2 separate regions of the Homo sapiens genome follow, and region 1 is linked to region 2. Evidence: fine-mapped expression QTL. A gene starts in region 2. The other region holds a variant in brackets. All regions are shown on one strand. Distances are from middle to middle.

Evidence for each region.
Region 1: its variant is fine-mapped to the expression of CLEC1B in monocytes (Quach 2016, PIP 0.95).

Annotation. Positions count from the first base shown.
Region 1 is chr12:9,955,166-9,967,608 of GRCh38, reverse strand. It overlaps LOC124902874 (a long non-coding RNA gene), which reads right to left. Exons shown (of 2, transcript XR_007063207.1): 2 at 10,612-11,855. It also overlaps a transcript of CLEC12A not described here. Among named protein-coding and RNA genes, the nearest start is that of CLEC12A-AS1, 8.0 kb to the right of the region's middle. The variant T/C (reference allele first, on the strand shown) is at 9,009.
Region 2 is chr12:9,990,350-10,007,305 of GRCh38, reverse strand. It overlaps CLEC1B (C-type lectin domain family 1 member B), which reads left to right and starts at 8,185. Exons shown (of 6, transcript NM_016509.4): 1 at 8,185-8,269; 2 at 8,926-9,024; 3 at 10,027-10,146; 4 at 10,306-10,460; 5 at 12,060-12,166; 6 at 14,019-14,231. The coding sequence starts at 8,206. The coding sequence ends at 14,163. It also overlaps a transcript of CLEC12A not described here and a transcript of CLEC12B not described here.

The DNA of each region.
Region 1 (12,443 bases), 37 kb after region 2:
CTCTCCATGTCTCTACTCTCTCTTCTCTCTGGGCTTGCCTCCTTCACTATGGGCAAGCTTCCGCCCTCCATTCCCCCTTCTTCTCCCTTAGCCTGTGCTCTTAAAAACCTAAAACCTCTTCAATTCACAGCTGACCTAAAACCTAAATGCCTTATTTTCTTCTGCAATGCCACTTGACCCCAATACAAACTCGACAGTAGTTCCACATAGCCAGAAAATGTCACTTTCCATTTTTCCATCCTACAAGATCTAAATAATTCTTGTTGTAAAATAGGCAAACGGTCTGAGGTGCCTGACGTCCAGGCATTCTTTTACACATTGGTCCCTCCCTAGTCTCTGTTCCCAATGCAACTCATCCCAAATCTTCCTTCTTTCCCTCCCGCCTGTCCCCTCAGTCCCAACCCCAAGCATCGCTGAGTCTTTCTAATCTTCCTTTTCTACAAACCCATGTGACCTCTCGCCTCCTCACCAGGCCGAGCTAGGTCCCAATTCTTCCTCAGCCTCCACTTCTCCACCCTGTAATCCTTTTATCACCTCCTCTCCTCACACCTGGCCCAGCTTACAGTTTCATTCCATGACTAGCCCTCCCCAACCTGTTCAGCAATTTCCTCTTAAAAAGGTGGCTGGAGCTAAAGGCATAGTCAAGGTTAATGTTCCTTTTTCTTTATCCCAAATCAGATAGCGTTTAGGCTCTTTTTCATCAAATATAATAACCCAGCCCAGTTCATGGCTCGTTTGGCAGCAACCCTGAGACGCTTTACAGCCCTAGATCCTAAAAGGTCAAAAGGCCGTCTTATTCTCAATATACATTTTATTACCCAATCTGCTCCCGACATTAAATAAAACTCCAAAAATTAAATTCCAGTCCTCAAACCCCACAACAGGACTTAATTAACCTCGCCTTCAAAGTGTACAATAATAAAGTAGAGGCAGCAAAGTAGCAACATATTTCTGAGTTGCAATTCCTTGCCTCCACTGTGAGACAAACCCCAGCCACATCTCCAGCACGCAAGAACTTCCAAACGCCTAAACCACAGTGGCCAGGCATTCCTCCAGGCCTGCCTCCCCCAGGAGCTTGCTAAAAGTGCCAGAAATCTGGCCACCTGGCCAGAGAATGCCCGCAGCCCAAGATTCCTCCTAAGCCATGTCCCATCTGTGCAAGACCCCACTGGAAATCAGACTGTCCATCTCACCGGCAGCCACTCCCATAGCCCCTGGAACTCTGCCCCAAGGCTCTCTGACTGACTCCTTCCCAGATCTTCTCGGCTTAACAACTGAAGACTGTCACTGCCCAATCACCTCAGAAGCCTACAGGACCATCACAGACACTCTAGGTAACTCTCACAGTGGAGGGTAAGCCCGTCCCCTTCTTAATCAATACGGAGGCTACCCACTCCACATTACCTTCTTTTCAAAGGCCTGTTTCCCTTGCCTTCATAACTGTTGTAAGTACTGATGGCCAGGCTTCTAAACCTCTTAAAACTCCCCAACTCTTGTGCCAACTTAGACAATACTCTTTTAAGCACTCCTTTTTAGTTATCCCCACCTGCCTAGTTCCCTTATTAGGCTGAGACACTTTAACTAAATTATCTGCTTCCCTAACTATTCCTAGGCTACAGCCACACCTCATTGCCACCTTTTCCCCCAGGTCAAAGCCTCCTTCACATCCTCCCCTTGTATCTCCCCACCTTAACCCACAAGTATAGGACACCTCTACTGCCTCCTTAGCGACTGATCCTGCACCCCTTACCATCCCATTAAAACCTAATCACCTTACCCCGCTCAATGCCAATATCCTATCCCACAGCACGCTTTAAAAGGATTACAGCCTATTATCACTCTCCTGCTACAGCATGGCCTTTTAAAGCCTATAAACTCCCCTTACAATTCCCCCATTTTACCTGTCCTAAAACCAGACAAGGCTTACAGGTTAGTTCAGGATCTGTGCCTTATCAACCAAATTGTTTTGCCTAACCACCCCATGGTGCCAAATCCATATACTCTCCTATCCTCAATATCTCCCTCCACAACCCATTATTCTGTTCTGGGTCTCAAACATGCTTTCTTTACTATTCCTTTGCACCCGTCATCCCAGCCTCTCTTCACTTTCACTTGGACTGACCCTGACACCCATCAGACTCAGCAAATTACCTAGGCTGTATTGCCGCAAGGCTTCACAGACAGCCCCCATTACTTCAGTCAAGCCCAAATTTCTTCCTCATCTCTTACCTATCTCAGCATAATTCTCATAAAAACACATGTGCTCTCCCTGCTGATCATGTCCGGCTAATTTCCCAAACCCCAATCCCTTCTACAAAACAACAACTCCTTTCCTTCCTAGGCATGGTTAGGGCAGTCAGAATTCTTACACAAGAGCTGGGACCGCACCCTGTAGCCTTTCTGTCCAAACAACTTGACCTTACCATTTTAGCCTAGCCCTCATGTCTGCATGCAGTGGCTGCCGCTGCTTTAATACTTTTAGAGGCCCAAAAAATCACAAACTATGCCCAACTCATTCTCTACGGTTCTCATAATTTCCAAAATCTATTTTCTTTCTCCCACCTGACGCATACACTTTCTGCTCCCTGGCTCCTTCAGCTACACTCCCTTTTTGTTAAGTCTCTGACAATTACCATTGTTCCTGGCCCAGACTTCAATCCAGCCTCCCACAGTATTCTGGATACCACACCTGACCCCTATGACTGTATCTCTCTGATTCACCTGACATTCACCCCTTTTCCTCATATTTCCTTCTTTCGTGTTCCTCACCCTGAACACACTTAGTTTATTCATAGTAGTTCCACCAGGCCTAATCGCCACACACCAGCAAAGGCAGGCTATGCTATAGTACAAGTCACCAGCCCACCTCTTAGAACCTCTCATTTCCTTTCCATCGTGGAAATCTATCCTCAAGGAAATAACTTCTGTTCCATCTACTATTCTACTCCTCCTCATAGATTATTCAGGCCCCCTCCTTTCCCTACACATCAAGCTCGAGGATTTGCCCCCACCCAGGACTGGCAACTCTTAACTCCCTCTCAGAGGGGATAGATAATCTTTGCTGGCAGGGGACCCTCCAATACTTTCACCCTGATGAAGTTCTATTCTTTACTTTTATACTCAATCTTATTCTCATTCCCATTCTTATGCCACCCTCTACCTCTCCCCAGCTATCTCCACCACACTATAAACATTACTCATTCTCTCCTAGCTGTTTCTAATCCCTCCTTAGCGAACAAACTCTAGCTTTGCATTTCCCTTTCTTCCAATGCCTACACAGCTGTCCCCACCTTACATGCAGACTAGGCAACATCTCCTGTCTCCTACACCTCCAAACTTCCTTTAACAGCCCTCACCTTTACCCTCCTGATGAACTCATTTACTTTCTAGACAGGTCCAGCTAGACCTCCCCAGACATTTCACGTCAGCAAGCTGCCGCCCTCCTCCACACTTACTTAAAAAACCTTTCTCCTTGTATCAACTCTACTCCCCCCGTATTTACCTCTCACAACACAAACTACTATTCCTGTGGCTGCTCCTTTATGTATCTCTCAGCAAAGACCCACTGGAATTCCCCTGGGTAACCTTTCACTTTGATGTTCCTTTACTCTTCATCTCCAAAGCCCTCTTGTTGTTTACTTATACCCAGCCCCATAAATAACAGTGAAAGGTAGCTCATAGACACTCAACATTTTCTCATACACCATGAAAATCGAACCTCCCCCTCTACGCAGTTACCCCACCAGTCCCCATTACAACCTCTGATGGCTGCTGCCCTAGCTGGATCCCCAGGAGTCTGGGTACAAGACACCCCTTTCAGCACTCCTTCTCATCTTTTTACTTTGCTTCTCCAGTTTTGCCTCGCACAAGGTCTCTTCTTCCTCTGTGGATCCTCTACCTCCATGTGTCTACCTGCTAATTGGACAGGTACATGCACACTAGTTTTCCTTACTCCTAAAATTCAATTTGCAAATAGGACCGAAGAGCTCCCTGTTCCCCTCATGACACCGACACGACAAAAAAGAGTTATTCCACTAATTCCCTTGCTTATCAGTTTAAGACTTTCTGCCTCCACTATTGCTCTCGGTACTGGAATAGGAGGCATTTCAACCTCTGTCACGACCTTCCATAGCCTCTCTAGTGTCTTCTCTGCTAGCATCACAGACATATCACAAACTTTATCAGTCCTCCAGGCCCAAGTTGACTCTTTAGCTGCAGTTGTCCTCCAAAACCGCTGAGGCCTTGACTTAGTCACTGCTGAAAAAGGAGGACTCTGTATATTCTTAAATGAAGAGTGTTGTTTCTACCTAAATCAATCTGGCCTGGTGTATGACAACATAAAAAACTCAAGGATAGAGCCCAAAAACTTGCCAACCAAGTAAGTAATTATGCTGAACCCCCTTGGACACTCTCTAATTAGATGTCCTAGGTCCTCCCAATTCTTAGTCCTTTAATACCTGTTTTTCTCCTTCTCTTATTCTGTTTAGTTTTTCAATTCATACAAAACCGTATCCAGGCCATCACGAATAATTCTAAATGACAAATGTTTCTTCTAGCAACTCCACAATATCACCCCTTAGCATGAAATCTTCCTTCAGCTTAATCTCTCCCACTCTAGGTTCCCACATCGCCCCTAATCCCGCTGGAAGCAGCCCTGAGAAATATCGCCCGTTATCTCTCCATACCAAGCCCCCAAAATTTTTGCCGTCCCAACACTTTACCACTATTTCATTTTTATTTTCTTATTAATATAAGGAGACAGGAATGTCAGGCCTCTGAGCCCAAGCTAAACCATCCTATCCCCTGTGACCTGCACATACACATCCAGATGGCCGGTTCCTGCCTTAACAGATGACATTCCACTACAAAAGAAGTGAAAATGGTCTGTTCCTGCCTTAACTGATGACATTATAAAATTCCTTCTCCTGGCTCATCCTGGCTCAAAAGCTCCCCCACTGAGCACCTTGTGGCCCCCACTCCTGTCCGCCAGAGAACAAGCCCCCTTTGACTGTAATTTCCCACTACCTACCCAAATCTTATAAAACAGCTCCACCCCTATCTCCCTTCGCTGACTCTCTTTTCGGACTCAGCCCACCTGCACCCAGGTGAAATAAACAGCCTTGTTGCTCACACAAAGCCTGTTTGGTGGTCTCTTCACACGGATGTGAGTGAAAGTTATAACGGAAAAAAGGGAAAGAAATGAAGACAGGTGAAGAAAAGTGCACAGGGATAAAAATTTGGAGACACACACCTTCAGAGTCACATAATTTAAAAGTTGAGAGACCACAGTGACAGTGATATACTCAGGTACCAAAAAGAAACACACACTTGGGATCCAAAAAAAAAAAAAAAAAAGAAAAAACCGGTTATACATTAAAAGGAAAATTTAAGAAGATAAAATAACAGGACAATTTACAAGATAGAGATAAGACCAAAGGAAACCATGAGGGATAGTGAAATACCCCAGGGCTAGCTACTGCCGGAAGCCATTACTACATTAGGCCTGAGAGAACATTGCTGGTAGCAATTAACTGAAGCAGCAGAAACTATAGCTGATGAAGGCTGCCTCCCTGGAGGTACACTCAGCGAGAACAACTCCATATCCATTTCCTAGTGCTGTAGGGAAGGATTCTCCCACCTTTAAATCTTTTGCCTATTCTTCCTATTAGCACAAACATACCTAGAGCTTCAGGACAATAGTGTCCAGGGATATTATACATGAGAGTCAGTCACCATCCTAGGGCACTGCAAAGGGATTAGAATGGTGAAGAGTAGATTTATTGAAATCATTTTCTGAACCATATGTAGGCCAGTTTTTATCATTTGGCTTGTCAATTGGTGTTTTGATATTTAATTCTTTTTTTTTAGGTTGTCTCATAATTTTTTATTAAATAACAGGCCTTATGTATTAAAAACAGAAATTTTAAATGATCTTCCTACCAAAAAGTTTTGTTTCTTTTTTTCTGGCAGTCACACAGAATATAAGCGGTAAACCTTGATTAATTGGAGCCCCTCAAATTTTGCCTTCTCAGTTGTTTTATACATTTTATCTAAATTTTATAATTATCTTTTTGTAGGTTTCTTTCATCTGATACAAGTTGCAATGCTATGACTAGGATTGGCTTTATTCTGGCTTTGTTCTCCAACAAACTAAAATTGGGAGGTTATATAGTGAGGAAGGAATGTAGCTATGTGCAGGCAGAAATGTAGCTGTGTGGGGAGTGTAAACCAAAAATGAAATTCTAAGGCCCCTCAACCATCTGAATGGACTCCCTCTTCAACCACAGCTCTTTGAAAATTTAACCTGAGAGATGGGTTCAGGCCATGACAGGAAGTGCGTGTCGAACACGCTTCATTATATCTCTCAGGCATTAATACTTAAGTCTCTCTCAAGTCTGCTGTCTGGAGGCTTCATTTGCATGATAAAACCTTGGTCTCTACAACCTCTTACCACAACCCAGACATTTCTTTTCTATTGATTCCAGACCTTTAGATAAACTCAACCAATTGCCAATCAGTAAATGTTTATAGTTGATTGAAGCCTCGTGTCTCCCTAAAATGTACAAAACCAATGTGTACCTGAACCACCTTGGGTGCATGTTCGCAGGGCCTCCTGAGGGCTGTGTCACGGGCATGGTCACTCATATTTGGCTCAGAATAAATCTCTTCAAATATTTTACAGAGTTTGATGCTACGTGGACAGGGGAAAAATAGAAATTAGGCAGAGGTAGGGAAAAAATCATGCTGGGTGAAGGATCTGCAGTCTCATTGCCTGGGTGTGGTGCTCTGATGAGTTTCAGTTCCTTGCCTGAAAGTCGGTTTTCTAAGCAAGAAACTCAGGAAAACAAACAAGTTTCAAGTTTTAAGACCAGACAGGGTCCATTTCTATGTTCCAAAGCAAAACAAACAAAAACAACTGTAAATATTAGTTCTATAAGATAACGGGGCCGGTTTCAGTCTCTCTTTTCTATTTATCACTTCCTCAATCATGGAGAATCTGGTCATTGATCCTTCTGGCTGCTTCATGCTGAGGACGTGTGAGGTGGAATAATGATAAGGAATGGAAATGTGGCACTATAATCAGAAGTAGTCATTGGAGCACTATGATCTGGGTACTTTTATTTCAGTTTTAGAACAACGTTTTAGGCCACATTGAACAAGGATGATAAATAATATAGATAAACCAATTTTAAAATACCAGAGAATTTGGAGTGGATCCCTTGGGGAATCCAAGAGAACAATCCTAAGCCTACCAAAAAGTATTCCTGATTCATTATATCTTATATGTGAAAAGCTGTGGGTTTAAAGAGAATAATAACTGAAAAATGCATATTCCTTTTACAGTTTCTTATCTAGGATCTTTGGCTGGGCTTTCAATATTAACTTAAGGCCATGTATAGGTTCACAAGAGCATGACTGTTTCCCCTGGAGGGATCCCACAGTGACTAGTTTTACTGAGTATGTTGAATTCATGGTTTAACACTGGCTAACTTGATAGACGAGTGGGTGGTCAGCAGCACCTTAAAAAGACTGACCTATTGTGGTTGCAGCTAGTCTTCAGCCTGATGGGATTTCCAGGTCTTCAGTATGATTCGATTCCCTGGTTTCAAACAGGGAAGAGGCAAGTCCATACAGAAATGAAGTCTGTTGGAGAGACTAGTTAATATATTCCCTAATTGTTTCATGTATGACATAGCTTCTGTTTCAGGGGAGGAAAAAATCCTCAAGCATCAGAGAGTCCAGGAAAACAGTCTCCAAGTAAACATTTTGAAAGGGGCTAAGAGCTAATCCATTTCTGGGAGCTACCAGTACCCTCAGCAGGGCAAGGGGCAAGACCTTTTCCCAGGTAAGATTTATCTCTTGGAAACTGAGGTCTCCTTGGAATATGCCAGAGGGAGCATTGATTGCCAAACTTTATTTTGTTCCATATCATTTCCAAGGTGGTATGACTACCTGCCCCGAGTCCATCCTGTTCGTCAGTGGGACCCCTGTAACCAAGGGACTTAGAGTCAAAAAAGACTTATAGTCAATTAAACATTCTAGGCCACACAAGAATAGAGGTGCCAGGGACTCATTACCATTAAAACTCAAAGCAACGAAAGAGCCAAAAACCAAAAAGTAAGGTTAATATTTCTTTCTTCTTTTTTTTTTTTTTTGAGACAGAGTTTCGCTCTTCTCTCCCAGGCTGGAGTGCAGTGGCACAATCTCTACTCACTGCAACCTCCGCCTCACTGGTTCAAGAGATTCTCCTGCCTCAGCCTCCAGAGTAGCTGGGGTTACAGGTGCCCGCCACCACGCCCAGCTAATTTTTTGTATTTTTAGTAGACATGGGGTTTCATCATGTTGGCCAGGCTGGTCTCAAACTCCTGACCTCATGTGATCCACCCGCCTCAGCCTCCCAAAGTGCAGGGATCACAGGAGTGAGCCACCACGCCCAGCCAAGTTAATATTTCTATCATTGTTCCTGGACCAAACTGAGGGTCAGACTGCTATTTCTTCCAGCCCAGTAACAAGATGCAGATGAACTGGGGAGGAAGAGTTTTTATTTCTTTAACAAGTTATAGGGAGAAGGCCTGGAAAATATTGCCAGACCAACTCAAAATTACAAAGTCTTCCAGAGCTTATTACCTTCTAAGTTATATGTCTGTGTGTAAGTGCATTCATCTAAAAACATGAGTGATTAACTTCTTGTAATCTATAACTGAGATCTGAGTTCTGAAGACCTTCCTCTGGAGGCTTAGTAAATTTACTTAATCTATATGGGTCCAGGTGCTGGGGTGATTACCCTATCTTGTCTCCTGCTAAATCATGGAGGTTTGGGAACTTCCTTGAGATCTCCAATAAACTTGTCTGTGGAAGCCTGGGAAGTTTCTTCAGACTGCCGGTAAAACTTGTTTAATCCTAATCTGGTCCTGTTAAGAATTCCTTCATTATCTTGTCATGGGTCCAAGCCCCAGGAAAGTCCTAGGCAAAACTCGTGGTGGGCTTTTGTTACAATCCAGAGTTTG[T/C]ATAAGGCCACTGGCTTTTTTACCTTTTAACATTTAACTTAACCACTCAGTCAGTACTGAAACAGTTGTTATGGAGGCCTGCATTAGTGACCTGGCCTGCCACATCATTATAAAGCCAGTCCCCCGTGGCTTACATTTGAAGCATATCTGTTGCTTCATCTGGAGTGCTCCACTTGGCATTTATAGGTGGAGTGGGACAATTCTCCTTCTCAGAGTAAATAGTTCTCACAGTGTTTTATCCAGTCCACCAAGTAGGCTGTTCTTTTGGGAATAACCTCCTGTGTGCCCGGATTATATGTACCCATCTGCAACTGTTCAATTGTGAGCCGTGGGTTCTGTATCAACCGGATCTTCCACTCTGCAGCATTTAAAACCAAAGACATTGTGCCTAAAGTAATTACTCTCACAATTTATTTTAGTAAAGGTTCAGGAAGCTAATGATACTGATTTGCAAAATAGAACAATTCCTTCACATTATACCCTCTAGTTTCAGAAGTCACTTTAATTCACTCCTTCCCCACATTGACTACCTTCCAGGAAACCACAGATCTCAGAGGTACTTTCTGGTTTCCTGGCATAATTTTCTTCTTCATGAGCAGCCTTGAGGCTAGTGATCTGAGTTCAGACAGACCCACATCTAGGCTTGGTTTGGCCTCAAAGCCTGACCCAATATTCTCCTACTTTAATTTTAGCTATTACAGATGTGAAAGGAAAATAAATCTTGGGGTCCCCAAATCACTAAGCCAAAGAGAGAAGTCAAGCTGGGAATTGTGTCAGGCAAACCTGGCTCCCATTTTATTCGATTGAATTTCACCCTGGCAATGTAAATTGATAGCTTATCTTCACAGGTATGGGACAAAGGATAGAACTTGAAGTCAACCCTCTGCTCATCTGAAACAAATGCATATCTGATTGCTTCCTCTGCCCTTTCGTTTGTATAAAAATGCAGATTCACTGATCTAGACTGAGGCATAAGTGACTATTTCTTTACCCCACTCTCACATGTAATTGTGTATTTAGTGAAAGTCTGATCAAAATCTCAAAAGAATACAACCATTTGTCTCTTATCTACCCACACCTTTTTTTTGTTTTTTTGTTTTTTTTTTTTTTGAGATGAAGTCTCACTCTGTCATCACCCAGGCTGGAATGCAGTGGCACGATTTTGGCTCACTGCAACCTCTGTCTCCCGAGTTCAAGTGATTCTCCTGCCTCAGCCTCCTGAGTAGCTGGGATTACAGCCGTGCACCACCACACCCAGCTAATTTTTGTATTTTTAGTAGAGATGGGGTTTGTCCATGTTGGTCAGGCTAGTCTCAAACTCCTGACCTCAGGTGATCTGCCCACCTTGGCCTCCCAAATTACTGGGATTACAGGCATGAGCCACCGCCCTACCCACACCTTTTTAAAATTTCTTCCTCTTTCCCCAATATCTGCCCTTTCCCCTTTAAATATTGAAGCCCTCAAAAGCATCTTTGGAGAAAGGCACAGACTTGTGTTTCAGGCACATATCCCTACCCTTGGCAAAATAAACTTTGAAATTAATTGAGACCTACCTCAGATACATTTTGGTTTATATCGATAACAAAAACCAAGGGATTGAAAATTTTGCTTTTTTAAAAATTAGTTTTTATTTCCTTATGCATCCAGTGAACCAACTTCTGAGGTGATGAATCCATATCTAAATTCCACTGGTAACTTATACTTTTAATAACTGAATGCAGCACAGCACAGATGTATCTCCATACCATGGATGACCAGGTTGCCATAGGTCAAAGATTAATCTAATAACAGGTGTACTGCAGTTTTCTTCCAAAACATAATGTTTCTCTCTCCAGCTCCCCATTTCCATGAAAGGCAAATCACAGTAGGACCAATTTATTTGCAAAATCTGTTTTAATCTTATTATAGTTTGCCTGATTATTTGCATAAACTGAAGCAAGAATTATTGTTCATATAGGCTTTTTTAAATTGGCTTTGCTGGAACTTTTCATAAGGAATCTCAGATTTGATTTTTAAAGGCCTCTCGAGCACAACCAATAATTGATCTGTGCTTGCAGATACCTGTATGAATTGGGTGAATTCCTCTTTTCTTGAGGTCCCAAAACAACTTGAGTTTTCTGGGCCTGAGAACATTCATGTTTCTCATCTATAAAATGTTAATATCTGATAGACAGCCCAGGATTTCTTGCTTCCTAGGTTTCCATTAAAATTTAGGATTACTAAGAATAAGAATTCCAGCAAATTGTATGATTCCATGTACAATGTGCCAAAGAAGATGTGTTCTTATTGATTAAAGAAATAATTTTGTTTAACTCAGAAGTTATCTAAAGGTTAATTCAAATTATAGACTTAGGTTGTTTATGAAACAGGGTAGAAAGGATCCAGTAACTAGGGGAGAGAGATATAGATTAGTCCCCTGGGTTAGAACAAGGTTTTCTTAAAATATTGATTGGATGAGAGGTTTTGATTTTGACTCTATAATCTGTTACTTTTTGAATACTTCTCAGATCTATATCTCCAAAGTGCAGCTTTCTTGTGTTTTGTTGCTGTCAGCTTGTCTCCCCTTGAAGGAACCTGAAATGAAACTATCTCCTTCAACTTTGTCAGTTCTTGTATCTTTTTTTTCCCTCTTGCCTTAACTGCTGTCATGGTCTGATGCTGAAATATTTATTTTAAAATTCTAGAGAAGCAACGTTTTCCTCCAGTATAGCTTGATTCTGTCCTCTTGGCTTTTCTTGATATGTCTACATCATTTATCAGGTTTGATTTTCAGGTTTTCGAGATGGGACTCTGATAGGAGAAGCAATCACACTGCAGGAGGTTTTTCTTTGCCTTTTGGTAACTGACCTGAGAAACAAATTTTACATTTTATCAAAATAATTTCTATGTCATTGTTATTGGGTTTTTGATTGCTTAGGAAAACTGAGATTTAAAGGAATTAAGGTTTTTACATCATTTAACTTTCTGTATTGAAACCCTTTCATAATTGGAAATGACCCACACATCTCATGAGCATCCAAAATAACTTCAAGATATTAAATTACACAAAAAGTTCACTTAGAGCATTTATGCCATTTATATTTCATTCACTTTTTTAGCAATTATCTATATTACTTATGAGAAAAGAGATATCAAAGCTATTCATTATTTCCTTGTTAACCATTTTTATAACTTGTATATATTAGATGTTCACCTAAGTAAGAAACATAAAGTTGGCTGGGCATGATTGCTTACACCTGTAATCCCAGCACTTTGGGAGGCTGAGGCAGGAGGATCATGAGGTCAGGAGATCAAGACCATCCTGGCTAACATGGTGAAACCTCTTCTCTACTAAAAAATACAAAAAATTAGCCGGGCGTGGTGGCGGGCGCCTGTGGTCCCAGCTACTCAGGAGGCTGAGGCAGGAGAATGGCGTGAACCCGGGAGGCAGAGCTT
Region 2 (16,956 bases):
TTTTCATCTCTACTTGTTCACTTATGTTCACTTCCAAAGATGATATAATATCTCCTATATTAAAACAAGCAGAAGCCATCTTTTGTTCACCGTAACACCATACACATGATCACTCCATTTCTCTAATTTTCTTAACAACAAATGGGTTCAAAAATTTCTCTATGATCTTCCCAAACCTATTCTAATTAGGCTTTTTCCTTCACTATTTCTTTTTTTTCTTTTTTTATTTTTATTCTTTCTTTTTTTTTATTGAGACAGAGTCTAGCTCTGTTGCCCAGGCTGGAGTGCAGTGGCGCGATCTCGGCTCACTGCAAGCTCCGCCTCCCAGGTTCATGCCATTCCCCTGCCTCAGCCTCCAGAGTAACTGGGACTACAGGCGCCTGCCACCCCGCCCGGCTAATTTTTTGTATTTTTAGTAGAGACGGGGTTTCACCGTGTTAGCCAGGATGGTCTCGATCTCCTGACCTCGTGATCTGTCCCCCTCGGCCTCCCAAAGTGCTGAGATTACAGGCGTGAGCCACCACGCCTGGCCCTTCTTTCACTATTTCTAAAAAACACTCCTGCTAAAGTCAACATTACCTCAGTATAAACACATCCAATGGCTAGTTCTCAGGATTCATCTTACACATCGTATAAACAGAATTTTAAATAACTGATTATTCACTTTTCGTGACAAACTTTCTTCTCCAAAATGCTTTGTTCCCTAGGACACCATTCTCTTGGTTTTCCTTTTGCTTCACTCACAACCCAATCCTCCCTCAGATTAACTGATTCCTCTTTAAATTAATTTAAGATGTTGTTGTGTCCTAGAGTTCAATTCTTGGTCTTCTTAAAAAAAAAACAAAAAACTTATCCTGGAATGAACTAAATTGAATAGTACCCAGAGAATGGCCAGAATGGGAATTAATTTCTTATAGATTCGTGCCTTGAGATAACAGCCATACATTGATAATGTCCAAAAATTGTTATCTCCATACCAGCGCTTGATCTACAGGACCACGTATCTGAATGGATTCTTGGCATATTCACTTTGATATATTATAGGATTTTCTAGCTTAACACATCAAAAAATGGGTACCTTTTCCCAATGTGTTTCTTCATCTTAACAAATGTACACTCCATACGTACAGTTTCTCAGCTAAAAACTTGGAATCACCTTTGACAATTCTTGCTGCTCTCACATGAATTAAACTTGTCAGAAAATATTGTTCACCTTGGAAAATATGGAAACACAGTTATTAAATGTGGAAGTATTATTGATTTAGAAGATCTTAAAAGAAATATTGAGTTAACATGACAGAAGGATTCATTCTCACTCTGTTCTTTCTGTTCTCACATTTCATGCCTATTTCAGAGGACACTTTTAAAGTGGGGTTTAAATGGGAAAGTACCCAGAGAATGGCAAGAATGACAATTAATTCCGAATTATTTACAAAAAAGAAATAGGGAAAAGTGAAGATGAAAGCCAGAGGTATCAAAGACTTAAAGGAAACAAAAATAAACTAAAAGCAGAAGGAAAATAAATGGCCACAAGAAGGAGACAGAGGATGAATATAGGATGGAATTTATTTTGAAATGTATTAATATATTTACCCCATCAGGTGAATATACCTGACCAGCATAATAAAATATCCCAATTAAAATGAAGCACTATGAAGACAGACAAATTGATTCAAATCCTGGAGCAACACTTACTTGCCTTGTGGCTTTCGGCAAGTTATTGAACCTCTGTGCTTTATTTTTCTTAATAGTAAATCTGTCATAAATTTAATTCCTGCCACAAATATAACTGATAAAAGCATATAGAAAGAGCAATAAATGGCAGCTGTCATCGTAGAAGCAAGTTTGGATTATTCTGGATCATATTAAAAATGGAAGAAACCTGGGCAATTGTCCAAGCACTGACAGTGAAGCTTAAACAAACCAATCCTCATGAGCACAACGAGGGTCTGCTTGAGCCTGTCCAGAAGAACTCGATTATATCACTTTTCTTCATTCATAACACTTTCCATGATATACAATTATCTTGATCTTTGCTTTCTATGTTTCTTTACTATCTGTGCTGACCACCTTCTACTATAATATAAGCTAAATGCTTGTATAATTCATTAACCATTGGTCCCCAGAAAATAGAATTGTGCCTTGGACATCTGCAGTGATCAGTAAACATATGTTCAAATAAATGATTAATTAATAGTCCCTGCCATGAAGTTTTATAGTAATTTTAATTGGAAAGTACAATAGTAGATATACTTAACATTCTGTGAATCCTTAATTCAAATATACTAGATCATTTCACTTTCTCTTTGATTCAGACAAGAGACAGGGAAATACTGGGTAGAAGAGGGTTGTTCCTACCACACACCGGGGCCTGTCGTGGGGTCGGGGGAGTGGGGAGGGATAGCATTAGGAGATACACCTAATGTAAATGACAAGTTAATGGGTGCAGCATACCAACATGGCACATGTATACATATGTAACAAACCTGCACATTGTGCACATGTACCCTAGAACTTGAAATGTTATATATATATATTTATAAAGAAGAGAGTGGTTCCCTGGCACGTGCCCCACCCTTAAGCTGGGAGACTGGCAGCTCCAAATGGGGACAGACATTCCTGTTTTCATGCCCCAAAAAGTTGCCTTTTGGCCTGCCATGCCCCCTATTCTGTACCCATATAAACCCTGAACTCCAGGCTCCAGATCAGATGAGCAGACGAGGAGATGAGAAGACAAGCAGATGAAAGGTGGAATGACATGACAGAGAAGGAGAGAAGAGGAGGAACTTCTGAACGCCAAGAGGAGTTTGGCTGGGAGTGGTCAGAGAGTAGTTTGGCCGTTGGATGGCCAAACTCCAGAGGAAGATCACCTTCCCATTTCATCCACCTTCCAGCTCCCCATTCATCCCACTAGGAGCCACTTCCACAACTCAGTAAAACCCCCACATTCATCCTTTGAGTTCATGTGTGACCCGTTTCTTCTGGGATGCTGGACAAGAGCTTGGAATACAGAAAGCTGTCACACTGGCCCTCTGCCCTTGAGAAAAGGCCGGGGAGGCACTGAGCTGGTTAACACTTATGTTGTCTGCAGATGGCAGAGCTAAAAGAACTTTGTAACACTGGGGTTCCAGGCACCCACCCCTAGACACTACAGTGGGGCCACAGCCCAAAGTGCTCACCCCAACTCCTGCACCTGCCCGTCTGCATGCTCTCCCTCCCACAAGGGATTTGAGCTCATGACAGTCAAACAGACAGACATGCCCGTCACATACCCTGCTAAGAGGGCCAGACCTCTCCCATTTCACCTTAATCACACTATTTCCCTCAATCACACTGGGTGGATTAGATGAGGTTAGATGGTACTGCTTATTTTTTATTTTTTATTTCTTTTTGAGATGGTCTGGCTCTGTCACCCAGGCTGGACTGCAATGGCACAATTTTGGCTCATTGCAACCTCTGCCTCCTGGGCTCAAGTGAACCTTCCACCTCAGCCTCCCAAGTAGCTGGGACTACAGGCGCACACCACCACTCCCGGCTAAGTTTTGTATTTTTTTGGTAGAGGAAGGGTTTCAGCATGTTGCTCAGGCTGGTCTCAAACTCCTGAGCTCAAGCAGTCTTCCTACCTTGGCCTCCCAACGTGTTGGGATTACAGGAGTGAGCTAGCATGCCTGACGCCTGGCATTGCTTTTTACAAGAGGTACATGTATTCGAACTTCCTGACCTTTATTCAGTTGTTTGCCCTGCCTGAAAAACATTGCCTTCTCCTTTCTCCTCTTAGTCAATATTTACATTTTCTTCAAATATTAATGTAAATCTTAATCCAATTCATTGTTATTTATTGTTTAACATTTTACTTACATATGTTCTGTATACATATGCCTGATCAACTTTGCGGTATGACTGCAGACTGACACATTTTTTCCTTCAGTTTCCCTACTGTTTGTAACAAATGCTCTGCTGTAATTTTGGTCGGATAGTTATTAATTGTTTAGCTTATTAACTTTAAAAAAAAGCTCATTTCACTTTGAAATCCACATGTTTAAGCTTTCTGTAAATGAAGGAGAAAATATTAATTATACTTTTCTATGACAGGAAATCCTACCATTACCAAATTAAACAGTATTTAGTATTTGTGGAAAGCCTGGTAAGTCAAAGGCAAACAGCTTTAGTTTAAAAGTGGTTTATGTTAAAAAGTCTCAGAATAGCTATCACCAGTTGCAAAATACTCACTTCCTTTTGTTTCTGTCTGGAATCATTATAACACCCACAGTGGTCAACATCTTGTTGTCTTTCTCTTTTACACATATTTTACATGTGTAAAATATATACAGGACATCCCTGTATATTGATCAGTCTTAACCACAATGTTACGTATTCCACTAATTTTCATTCTTACTGCATGTACTCCTTGTCATTGTTATTAGTGTCTTTAACTCATTATTCAGCCTTAAACATAGATAATGGAGTCTATGAAAGACTTCATAATGTAGTCGAAAGAATTTAGAAACTGGGTAAATAGTACTACTTTTTACAAGAAGTGTAATGATTAAAAAGTTCCTCAAATTGCCGGGTGCGGTGGCTCACGCCTGTAATCCTAGCACTTGGGGAGGCCGAGGCGGGCGGATCACGAGGTCAGGAGATCGAGATCATCCTGGCTAACACGGTGAAACCCCGTCTCTATTAAAAATACAAAAAATTAGCCGGCCGTGGTGGCGGGCGCCTGTAGTCCCAACTACTTGGGAGGCTGTGGCAGGAGAATGGGGTGAACCCGGGAGGCGGAGCTTGCAGTGAGCCGAGATCGCGCCACTGCACTCCAGCCTGGGCGACAGAGCGAGACTCCGTCTCAAAAAAAAAAAAAAAAAAAACATTACCCAACTTGTAAATTTTTTTAAAGAAGTTCACATAGCTAAAATCTAACACTCTGCTTCATAAAGACTAACCTCATGATTTTTCTCCATGAATACTCAGCACCAATTTCAGTGTCTGAAACATAATTAACATTCATTAAATATTTCCTTTAAAACAGACAATTTAGAGTGTTCTTAATCTGTAAAATATTGAATGAATAAAAGGTTTTATTTTAAATTCAATTTCATCAGGAAATTTGGAATAAAGAATTTTTTTAGGCCAGGCGCGGTAGCTAAAGCCTGTAATCCCAGCACTTTGGGAGGCCGAGGCGGGTGGATCACGAGGTCAGGAGATCAAGACCATCCTGACTAACACGGTGAAACCGCGTCTCTACTAAAAATACAAAAAAAATTAGCCAGGCGTGGTGGTGGGCGCCTGTACTCCCAGCTACTCGGGAGGCTGAGGCAGGAGAACGGCGTGAACCCAGGAGGCGGAGCTTGCAGTGAGCCAAGATGGCGCCACTGCACTCCAGCCTGGACGACAGAGCAAGACTCAGTCTCAAAAAAAAAAAAAAAAGATTTTGTTTAGCTGTATATAGTTTCCTTAGTGAAGAAAAGGAGAAGAGAATAAGATATTCAAGCAAGGTTAAAATATTGAAGCAGAAATAAAATAAGCTAATAACGGGACTTGGAGGGTGATTAAAAGGTAACTAGCAAAGACTCTGGATTTGGGAAAAGGAAAAGAAGCATTTGTGATATCTATCTCTCTTTCCTGCAGTTCTCTGCTTAATTTTTGCTGAGTAACTCAACTTACATTTATAGAATGTGGGGAGGGAGCAAAATTAGAACTCAATGTTATCAAGGGCTAGTTCCTTTGGCCCTGAGAGTCTCTGTCTTCGCTCAGCTTGCTTCTAACACCACAAAGTCATGTGAGGGGGGATACACAGAAAGGCAAACGTATATTTTGTGGAACACAGATAAGATATAAGACTCTCAGACTGTGGCTGGAATGATCAAAGATCCAAAAAGCAAGGTTAAATTACAATGAGAAAGAGGAATGAAGCAATGGAAAGTCCAGAGCCTGAGATATAGGAAAGGAATATCTTCAAAGGCGGAGTGTTAACCTACTTCAGGCATTAAATATGCAGTTCTAAGCATTAAAGGATCAAGAACTAATCCTGGCACATTCCTGGTGGTTTACAAAAATACATGGGACATGTTTTATAATGAAATCAGCTGCTCAAGTCCTAGAGAATGTGGAAACCTCAACAAAGCAATCTAATTGTTCTCTTTAATACCATCTTAAAGTTTTTGTTAATAAACAAAAAATGTTTACAATAATTTAAAAATTGTCTCAATGTCCTTGGATCTTACCTTTACATATCTGATTTAATGTAACAAATTAAGTTTTCATATGTACCTGTTTGGTACCTAAGAGAACAGAGTAAAGCTTTATTGGAAAAGTGTCATTTGTACTATAACCTCCACACATTTTCTTTTCTCTCTGTTACTTTGTCACAGTTATTTATTCGATTATTTTTTAGTGTTTCTGTATATTTTAGGTAACAAAACACTGAAGGAAAGCAGTGACCAAAAGAACGTGAAAGACAGGGGTTACTGTGACAGAATAGCCTCAGGACTTGCTGATGAGTAGATGTAGAAAGGAAGGAAGAGAGGGAGGATCAAACCCCATTCCAACCCCAATCTTCCAGAAAAGCCTGAGGATAAATGATGGGAGAGCGAAGAATCCCTTTTAGCTGAAACAGAAGTTATGAGAACAGAAGCAGTGGTAGATGAATGGTAAGTGACTGAATTTACCCAGCTTATGATTGGGAACCCCTGAATATTTTAACTGAGATAAGAAACACAGCAACAAAAATGGTGTTGGGATTTAATGTTTTTTAAAAATTTTTAGTCTTTTCTTAAAATTTGGCATTTATTTCAAATGTGTTTTTTTTTAATTAAGAATTAGTTTTGGTAAAAATATTTGAATCATACTAAGTTTGGCTTTCCAAAATCAGGGAATGTCTTTTATACGTGTTATGCTTATTCTTCACCTCATTCTCAAAATAATTTGAAGAGTATAGAGAAAGAAATTTAGAATGAAAGATAATTTTAAGTGAATTGACAAGAAATTCAGAGTGAAGGAGATAGCAGGGGAGAAAAAATCTACGGGCTATGCCAAAGGGCATGTTAATAAACAAAATATCTGCTACTGCAGCCCACATAATCACTATATTGAAAAGTCTAACACTCTGCTAAGTAAAGAAAAATAGAATTCAAATTATTTATAAGGTAAATGCCTACTACTTAAAGCTTTGCTAGTCATGGTGATTTAACAAAAATAAAAATCTGCCATAAAACTATGTAAGAGTTACCCTATGGCAAAATAGACAACATCCTCCCCAATATTCCTATAATAAATGCATCAGCTAGCTTTGTATGGCTGTTCTTACAACTACTTTCAGTGCAAGCTAAAATAATGTAAAAGCCCATTTCATAAAGTTAAGTGTGTGCAATACATATTATATTGTGATGAAAAGGTGCTAGGAACCATTCAGTCTCAAATATTCATCTAAGCACAGCTGTACTTGAAATGAAGTGATTTCATCAAATCAAAATTCTTCCATTCCAGGAAACTCACTTTAAAGCACAAACACTACTAAAGAACAATGCAGCAAGTCACCAACTCTGTATTATTTTACTTGATTTGATAGTTTTCCTTCAATACCTAAATCTAAGCAATATCAGGCCTGCCTCATGTGGATCCTTCAAATAAAAAAAAGTATGAAATATGCAAGAAGTTGTGTAAATTCTAGGTCATAATCAGGAATGATCTCTTCCAACACAAGACTATGAAACAGCTAATTTAGCCCCTATCAGATCCAATTATATTACACTTGCTTCTCACAATGAGATAAACTATATATCTGCTGGTGAGCTATATCCATGAATTTTCAGCAGAAATCTCTCATTTGAGCAATGTAATTTAGACTAAGCTAGGGCTAAGATAAAGCATGAACTTTTGTTCTTAGAAAGGATGCACATGATGGAATGTCCCTTTATTTAGTGTTGAAGATAAAAAAAAAGCAGGAAGCAAATACCTTATCTACTCCTTTACCACAAGTTATTATTATTTTTGTGTTTTTGTGTTCAAGGTCCATGTATCTCTGAGCAGCTATGAAGAAGCTTCCTGGAAAACAATAAGCAAAGGAAAACAAATGTGTCCCATCTCACATGGTTCTACCCTACTAAAGACAGGAAGATCATAAACTGACAGATACTGAAATTGTAAAGTTGGAAACTACATTTTGCAAAGTCATTGAACTCTGAGCTCAGTTGCAGTACTCGGGAAGCCATGCAGGATGAAGATGGATACATCACCTTAAATATTAAAACTCGGAAACCAGCTCTCATCTCCGGTAAGAATGCTCAGAGCCAATAATTTGGAAATTAATTTAAAAAATGAGTTGATTCAATTCTTTCTTTTTCTACTATTGATAATATATATAGTTTAATTTCTTTTTCTTGAATGATGTTAATGCTCTAAAGCATTTGAGTAGTGTTTTCATAAGCTCATACAGACCTATTTAGATTACAAACATCCAATATATGTGCAGGGAAAATTGCATTAAGATTCTGAGCGTTTAATACTCGAGGGCATAGAAGTCAAGGGGATAACGGAAAAGAGTGGAAATTTCATTTTCTATATGTGAGCAAATGAGTGTGATTCTTCATTTGCTGTTTATTAAAGCAATTATTTATGGCATGGGTGAGCATAAAACAAAACAAAACAAAACAAAACAAAACAAAAAATACAAACACATCAGGCCTTAACAGCAAGTAATATTTCAGCTTGGAGAGGTAAAGTGCATTGGAGATGAGAATGGATGTATGGTATAGGGGTGGGCCATGCCTATTGTTGATGATCATGAGGAGAACACAGGTGAGATCTGCCAGCAAAGCTCTTTCTATTACTTGGAGGACCCTGAGAAGGCAGGGGCAGGGGCAGGGGTGAGCCTTCCCCATAGCTAACCCATACTGCCTGCTCCTTGATGTCTTTATTATATGCCTACAGTTGGCTCTGCATCCTCCTCCTGGTGGCGTGTGATGGCTTTGATTCTGCTGATCCTGTGCGTGGGGATGGTTGTCGGGCTGGTGGCTCTGGGGATTTGGTGTAAGTGTTGACTCTGCCAGAAATTTGACTGGAGGAAGGTAATACTGAAGGGTCATGGCATATCCCACTAAGCTTCTCAATGGTCGCTATTTGTCTGTTTATCACTTCTACAGTTGTCCTACAGATAGTTGCCAAGAGAATCTCAATAAAGGAGAACACTGACTGTTTCCTTGTGATTAAAATAAGATTTTAAGATTTTAACTAATGAAAAGTTATTTTTAAGAATGTACTACTGGCCTTTAAGACCCTCCTCAGTGTGGATCCAAACTATTTTTAAAAACTTTTTCATCCCTTTTCCTATCTTGCATTCCTAAGAACCAGCCAAACTGGAGTTTTTCAATTTCATATATAAATTCCATGTTCCCTTGTCTGAAATTTTTCTCATTCTATTCTCTCTACCTAAAATTTTCTGTTTCTCATTTTGTTTACTAAGTTACTGTGCATTTCTTCTTTCTGTAATTCTCATGGCCCTCCAATAGCACATTGAAGTCTGTGTAGTTGTTGCTTGTTTGTGTATTTGTTGATTTTTTTAAAAGATGTTAGAATCTAACATTTATCCTCTTGTATTTCTTTATTATTTACCTGAATATCACAAGTACTTTAAGCATAACAAGAAATCAGTATGTATTTTTAAATGAATGAATAGTTTGGCATCACAGAAAGAACAGAAAATAAGAGGTCATTCACCTCTATAACTCAGCTGAGAAGCTTGTATTCAAGCAAATGAATACAGGCTCTGGGGATGTTATCGATGTTGGGATTTTTTATTTGTGATTGTCTCCTTCAAACAGTTCACTTATTAACCCTCAGGCGTCAGTTCTGTGTATTTCTTAATTTGTTCTTTATAGCCCCTCCACACTTTTCAACATTCATTTAATCATGTGTATCTAGTAAACTCCTCATATATTGGCAAAGTTAAGGAAATGAAAATTCAATGACAGACCTTTGCATCATTTCTATGGTTCTAATTACAAATTATTATTATTTACTTTTTAAACCTAGCTGTCATGCAGCGCAATTACCTACAAGGTGAGAATGAAAATCGCACAGGAACTCTGCAACAATTAGCAAAGCGCTTCTGTCAATATGTGGTAAAACAATCAGAACTAAAGGGCACTTTCAGTAAGTATTGTTTTTTTAACCTCTTCATCTCTCCAACCCCTGGAGCATTTCTCTGATGGCAACTGAAGGGAGTTTGAGATCTGCAGAAAACATTGAATGTGAAGAAAATGTAAGCCCAATTTAGAAAAAATACACCATTCCTGTGCTTGGTTTCTCCAGAAGGTCATAAATGCAGCCCCTGTGACACAAACTGGAGATATTATGGAGATAGCTGCTATGGGTTCTTCAGGCACAACTTAACATGGGAAGAGAGTAAGCAGTACTGCACTGACATGAATGCTACTCTCCTGAAGATTGACAACCGGAACATTGTGGTAAGAAGATTCTTATGTCAAATATTTTGGAGGCAAGGAAGAGAAACCTCAAATGTAACACTTGACCTTTTTTTGTTTTTTACATTTTTCTTAACATCTTTCAGTTTGTACTAATCTAAGACCCTTGTGAAACCTAGTAAGAATTACAGAACCCAGATATTCAATCCACTCATAATATTCTACAACACTGATAGAGTTGATCAGTCAAATTGACTTGTCCCTTCCTGACAGCTCAGGTACATAGTGGGTCACACATGAAGAGTCAGCCCAGTGATGTTCATATTTATTTGTGTCCTCTGTTGTTCTAACTTGCTGTGCTGTCCACTTACTGTTTCTGTGGACTCAGACGCATACGGAAGATATCCAGTTACATAAATTAGCTTTTCTTTCCACTCCAGCAAAATAAGATAGTTTTCTAAAATCTCAGCTCTATTATATAGAGATTAATTCGAGACATATATGCATATCCTTAATTTGTATTAGTCTAGGCAGATGCCAGGTTGAAGATTTATAACTAAAAGTAGTCATGCAACTTTTTCAGAAAAAGAAATTGTATAGTTGGATTTCAGGTAGAATTTATCTGTCAGTTCCTATTGGGAAGTATATAATATTGATATATTTTAAAGAAAATATTAGGATATAACAGAAAGGTTCCCGGTGGCTCAAGCTTTAAGAAATAAACAGTCACATGTGACTTTCACACAATATCTCCTGTGGAATGCCATTTTGAGTCTCACATATCTGTCAAGAAGCTCAAGTCATTTTTTATTTACCAAGAATGCATTATCACTTGTTATTCTGGGAGGTCTCAGAATATATAAGCATTTGGCCTTCACATAATTTTGTTACCCATAGATTGATTGATTCACTTATTCCTTCATTAATTCAGCAACTATGTGCTGAAACTATTCCAGAATTTGGACCTATGCAGTTAGTAAGACAGAAAGAAAAATGCTTAACCTCGACAAGAGTATATTCTAGTTAAAGCAACAGCCAAGAAACAAAGCAAATGATATAGTATATAGTTTAGTAGATAGTGATAATTGCTAATTAGAAGAAAGTAAATAGGGAAAGGTAGATGTACGTTATTTATAAATCCTTTTGAGAAAGACATCATAAATGCCTTTATCCAATTAACTACAACAAGTTAATACTTCCATATGTAAGATTTTATAGGCAAGCTGAGCAATAAAACCAAAGCAGGTAGGGCTTTAACTCTAAGGAATATACAGCTCATCAACAATGTATTTCTTTGTATTTCCTTTCTCTGTTTACATTTATTCCTTTGAATCATATTTGGTATTCTATTTGGGAGTATAATCCTCAACTGGTTGAAGATCTAAATACATGTTATAAACACAAAAGAAGATTAGAATATCAGCTATTTTGTGTACAATTTTACCTGTGTCCTATAAGTTTTTTTTAAGTTCTCAGACAAGTCAAATTGGTACAATTTCAAACATCAAATGTAATCCATTAATACTAATATAGACATGTAATCCAACATTTTTTGTCCAACGTCTTATCATGAAGCTTTGTCTATCATACCAAGAGCTGTGGAGGGATTCTGACCATTGTGTTTATTTATGTTTACAATAGGAGTACATCAAAGCCAGGACTCATTTAATTCGTTGGGTCGGATTATCTCGCCAGAAGTCGAATGAGGTCTGGAAGTGGGAGGATGGCTCGGTTATCTCAGAAAATATGTAAGTCACTGGACACTTAGAATAGGAGGGAGTACTGGAAACTCTTATTCTTGAGATTCCCTCTTCTCTCAGTCCAAGTCACTACTATGGGTTATAGAAGCAGCAGCTGGGTCACTTACCTGCTAATTCAAACAAGACAGCGCTGGTCATAAGACAATTCTTTCCCCTCTCTCCCATTACTTTGCTCTTTATCTAAGCCACAATCCACCTTTATCTCTGATATTATTCCCATTCATTTTTACATTCAACCTTACCATGGAACACTGTGTGCATGTATGTGTATGTGTGAGTGTGTGTGTGTGTGTGCGCGCATGCACATGTGTGTGTGTTTTTGTGTTTTGCTTGTTCTGATTATCTTCACATATTTTTAAAACAAAATTTCATATCATTATTTTACAGTTGAAAGTTGTTATCTTGAGAGTCCTTTTGAGTTTTCAATATTGTTTTGCCTATTCCTCTATTCTGGGAGTCTCCAAGAATTCGATACATTGTATTTCACAAGATAATTCCAATGTCCATTAACGAAGCTTTGTCCTTCTACAAACAATCCAGGCAAAGGGACTGATTGCATTGAGTGGAGTTGCTTCCTATATGGCTTTCCAATCTGCAGTCTCAACATCTTTTGTTCATCCTGTATATCAAAACTGCAGTCTCTCTTCAATTAAAATTTAAACTGATAACCAAAACTTATATAATCTGATTATTACTCAAATTATGAATTAAATTTTTAAACAAATATTTATTAAGTATTTACTATAGATAGGATCTTAGGATACTACAACTACAAGCAAGCCTCTTCACAGACCTTGGGCTTTATCTCCTATCTCCTATTGCTTGCTGCCTCATTTACAATATTGCAGGCAACTTAGTGTTCTTTACATTCTTCCAACAAATCAAACTCGTTTTGTTACCTTAAGGCTTTTGTCTTGCTATTTTCTTCTAGAATGCTCTGCCTCCACAACTCCATGACCATCTCTCCACTGAGACTCAAGTCTCTATTTAAACATCACTTCTTCAGTGAACCTAACTCTACCCAAACTAAATTAGCCTCCCTTAAACCCATATCCATACAGTCCACCACTGTTTTGTTTCTTTGTAACTCTTACCACTGTCTCAATTTTTCTTGTCTATTTTTTGTGGGCTTCTTACCGGTATCGCCCCACTTAAATGAAAGTTCCCCAACAAGAAAGACATTAGCTTTCTTGTCTTTCTTTATCAGTGTATCCTCAGCACATAGAACAACTTTGTCACATAGTTCTGCAGGTATTCTCCAAATAAACCAATAAGTATATATTCCTTGTCATCTCATTATAAGCAGTTTAGAAAGAAAGAAATATAACTTAACAGACAATTACAATACAGCCTGCTGTGTTAGATGATTTATCTTGCAACATAAATCCTGATTTCAAAACTACTGAATCAACTCACTTTTCCATGAGCGTATTCCCATCTAGTGCAGCTACTTGTCCTGTAGGGCTCTTCCATCTCCTGTCAGTTCATCTGAGTCCTGACCTTCCATCAATACCGAACTAAAGTCTGATCTTGTAGATAATGCGTTTTCCCATTATTTTGGAGCCATCTCCATCACTTCTTCAGGGCTCCTATTGTACCTACTGTTCCCTTGCTCCTAATTTTATGCTAAATGAAATTGATATTGGGCTTTTTAAATATGCATATCTTGTACTGCCAAGCAGGGTGGAACTTTCTCAACAATGAGAATCGTTTTTTTTTTTGTTTTTTTTTCCTATTTTCCTCAGTCTCTATTTGGTGCATCAAACTACTATACGCAGAGTCTGATTACTGATTGTTTGCTCAGTTTTCAAAGGAATTTATTCTAACTTTCCCTTCACAGGTTTGAGTTTTTGGAAGATGGAAAAGGAAATATGAATTGTGCTTATTTTCATAATGGGAAAATGCACCCTACCTTCTGTGAGAACAAACATTATTTAATGTGTGAGAGGAAGGCTGGCATGACCAAGGTGGACCAACTACCTTAATGCAAAGAGGTGGACAGGATAACACAGATAAGGGCTTTATTGTACAATAAAAGATATGTATGAATGCATCAGTAGCTGAAAATTGCTTATTTCTCCCTTTCTTCTCACTGGAGTTATTTTTAATATTATCTTTCCTATCAGAATTACCTAGTCCCTTCTTTGAATATACAGAAGCCATCACGTGAGTTTATCATTTGCTTCCCAATTGTTCTATTTTCCTTTAATTTTCTTTCTTCTTGTCCTTCATTTCTAATTACCTGAACATGGTATGATTTACTGCATCTTCAGATATACACATATAACATCAAAATCAGGCCAATATAGGTTAGGGCTTAATTAATATAAGTTGTGCAAAATATCTATGTTTGAAATCTGTCCAAAATATCTAAGTTTGAAAGGCGGTGTAAGATAGTAAAAAGAATATTAAACTTAGAATCAGCAAAATAATTTAGATGTCAATTAACTAAATTACAATCATGAACAAGTTTCATAACCTCTTTAACTTCCCTTTTCTCATATTTAAAATAGGAATAATAACAACCATCTTTTATATCTCACAGTTCTACAACCTAAAATAGAACTTTAGAGTGTTAACTGTACCAGAAACTCCATGAAAGCGAACACTATGACTTCCCCATTCACTATTCTCTTACCAGCACCAACCCGAAACCCTGGCTCACAAAACAGAGAGATATTTGTTTCTCTTTGTATAAGATAGTTCATGAGAAAAATAGCTCAATCATTAAAACATTACGCAAATAGAATTACTATTCCAAGTCTACCTCTGGTTAGATTCAACAGTAGTAATTTTCTGCGCTAGAGAAGGAAAAGAAAGTTTGCAAGAAAACTCACTGGGTTTGTAAAATGAATAAATGCTTCTTAAGTTTCAGAGGCTACTAGACAGAAGGACAAGTAAAAATGCTTTAATTAGTATTTTCCTAACAGTTCTGTGCTTTATTTTTGCTGAGTAACTCAGGAAGTATTTACAGAATATGTGGAAAGGCACCCTTTTACAGGATAATAGGAAAAAATTGCATTTCTTTCCCACAGCTTCCCTTTTTTAACTAGTGGCTACCATTTACGAACATGATTCTCAAACATCTCAACGGAGGTTTTGGTTAAAACATAGAGAAACCAAATAGGAAACTCAAATGCTGATGTTACTCAGTGGGAAGACTGAGGAGACACAGAGACCTGGGTTTTTACCAGCATCACGACACAATTCTCATACAAGTAGTCTTTAATACAGTTAGAGAAATATCACTACTTTAGAACTTACTCTCTATCTGGCTTTGGATAAGTAATGTTCTCACCTTGAAATGGGTTTAATATTATTACCTTGCTCATAAGTTAATTGTGAAGCTCATTTAATATGATTATATAAAGTATCGATCAGAATACCAAGTATGTAATACATACTCAATAAATATGTGTTACTCTTAAAGCTTTGTGCGCTAACACTGAAAGACACTTGAATCTTTATCTTTTTTCTAGCCTATCAATAATTAAGCAGATTTGGAGGGCTTAGGAAAAATAATAGAAATACCTCAAATTTTACTTGTTACTTCAAATGTCTGGAGATCTTGGATTTGGGTGATGGTATCAGTATGTTTTTTATTTTGAATTGTCTATTTAGAGAAACTAAATAGGAACCAATAATTCAGAAAACTGTACAAAATTAGCAACTCAACTTTGTTTCATCTCCCTAAAATGGAAAAACATATGTGTATACATCCCTATAGCACACATAAACTTAGAAGAATAATATCTTAGTGCATGGCAACAATACAATTAAAAATGTAGGCCAATCACTGTGATTCTTTTTCTGGTATTCATATCTAAAGTATCTTATACATAAAATCAAAATAGCACAAACGTTAGTAGCACAGATCAGACCACCTCATTTCAAATACTAAATCTTCTACATGTCATCTAAGTGAACTCCAGCAAAATTTGACTTCTGTCTTCTTCAATTTAAAACTAACTTACAGGCATGCCTCGGAAATATTGTGGGTTCAGTTCCAGACCACCACAATAAAGCAATTATTGCAATAAAGTGAGTCACATTAATTATTTGCTTTCCCAATTCGTGTAAAAGTTATGTTTGAGCTACAACGTCTTCTATTAAGTATACAACAGCATTATGTCTGGAAAATGTACATAGTTTTATTAAAAATAGTTTATTGCTAAAAATGCTGATTATTTGAGTCTTTAGTGAGTGAAAATCTTTTTGCTGGTGTAGCGTCTTGCCTTGATGTTGATGGCTGCTGATGGATCACAGCAGTGGTTGCTGAAGGATGGGGTAGATGTGGCTATTTTTAAAATAAGACAATGGTGAAGTTTGTAGCATCAATTTAGTCTTCCTTTTATGAAATTTTTATCTGTAGAATGCGATGCTGTTAAATAGCATTTTACTCATCGTAAACTTCTTTCAAAATTGAAGTCAGTCCTCTCAAATCCTGCTACTGCTTTATCAACTAAGTTTATGCAATATTCAGAATACTTTATTAGCATTTCAACAATGTTCACAGCATGTTCACCAGGAATAATATTTGTCTCAAGAACCATTTTCTTTGCTCATCCATAAAAAGCAACTCCTCATTTGTTAAAGTTTCCTGATAAAATTGCATCAATTCAGCCACATCTTCAGGCTCCACTTCCAGTTCTAGTTCTCTTGCTATTTCCACCACATCTGCAGTTACTTCCACCACTGAAGTCTTGAACGCCTGCAAGTTATCCATGAGGGTTTGATTCAACTTCTTCCAAGTGTCTGTTAATGTTGACACTTTGTCT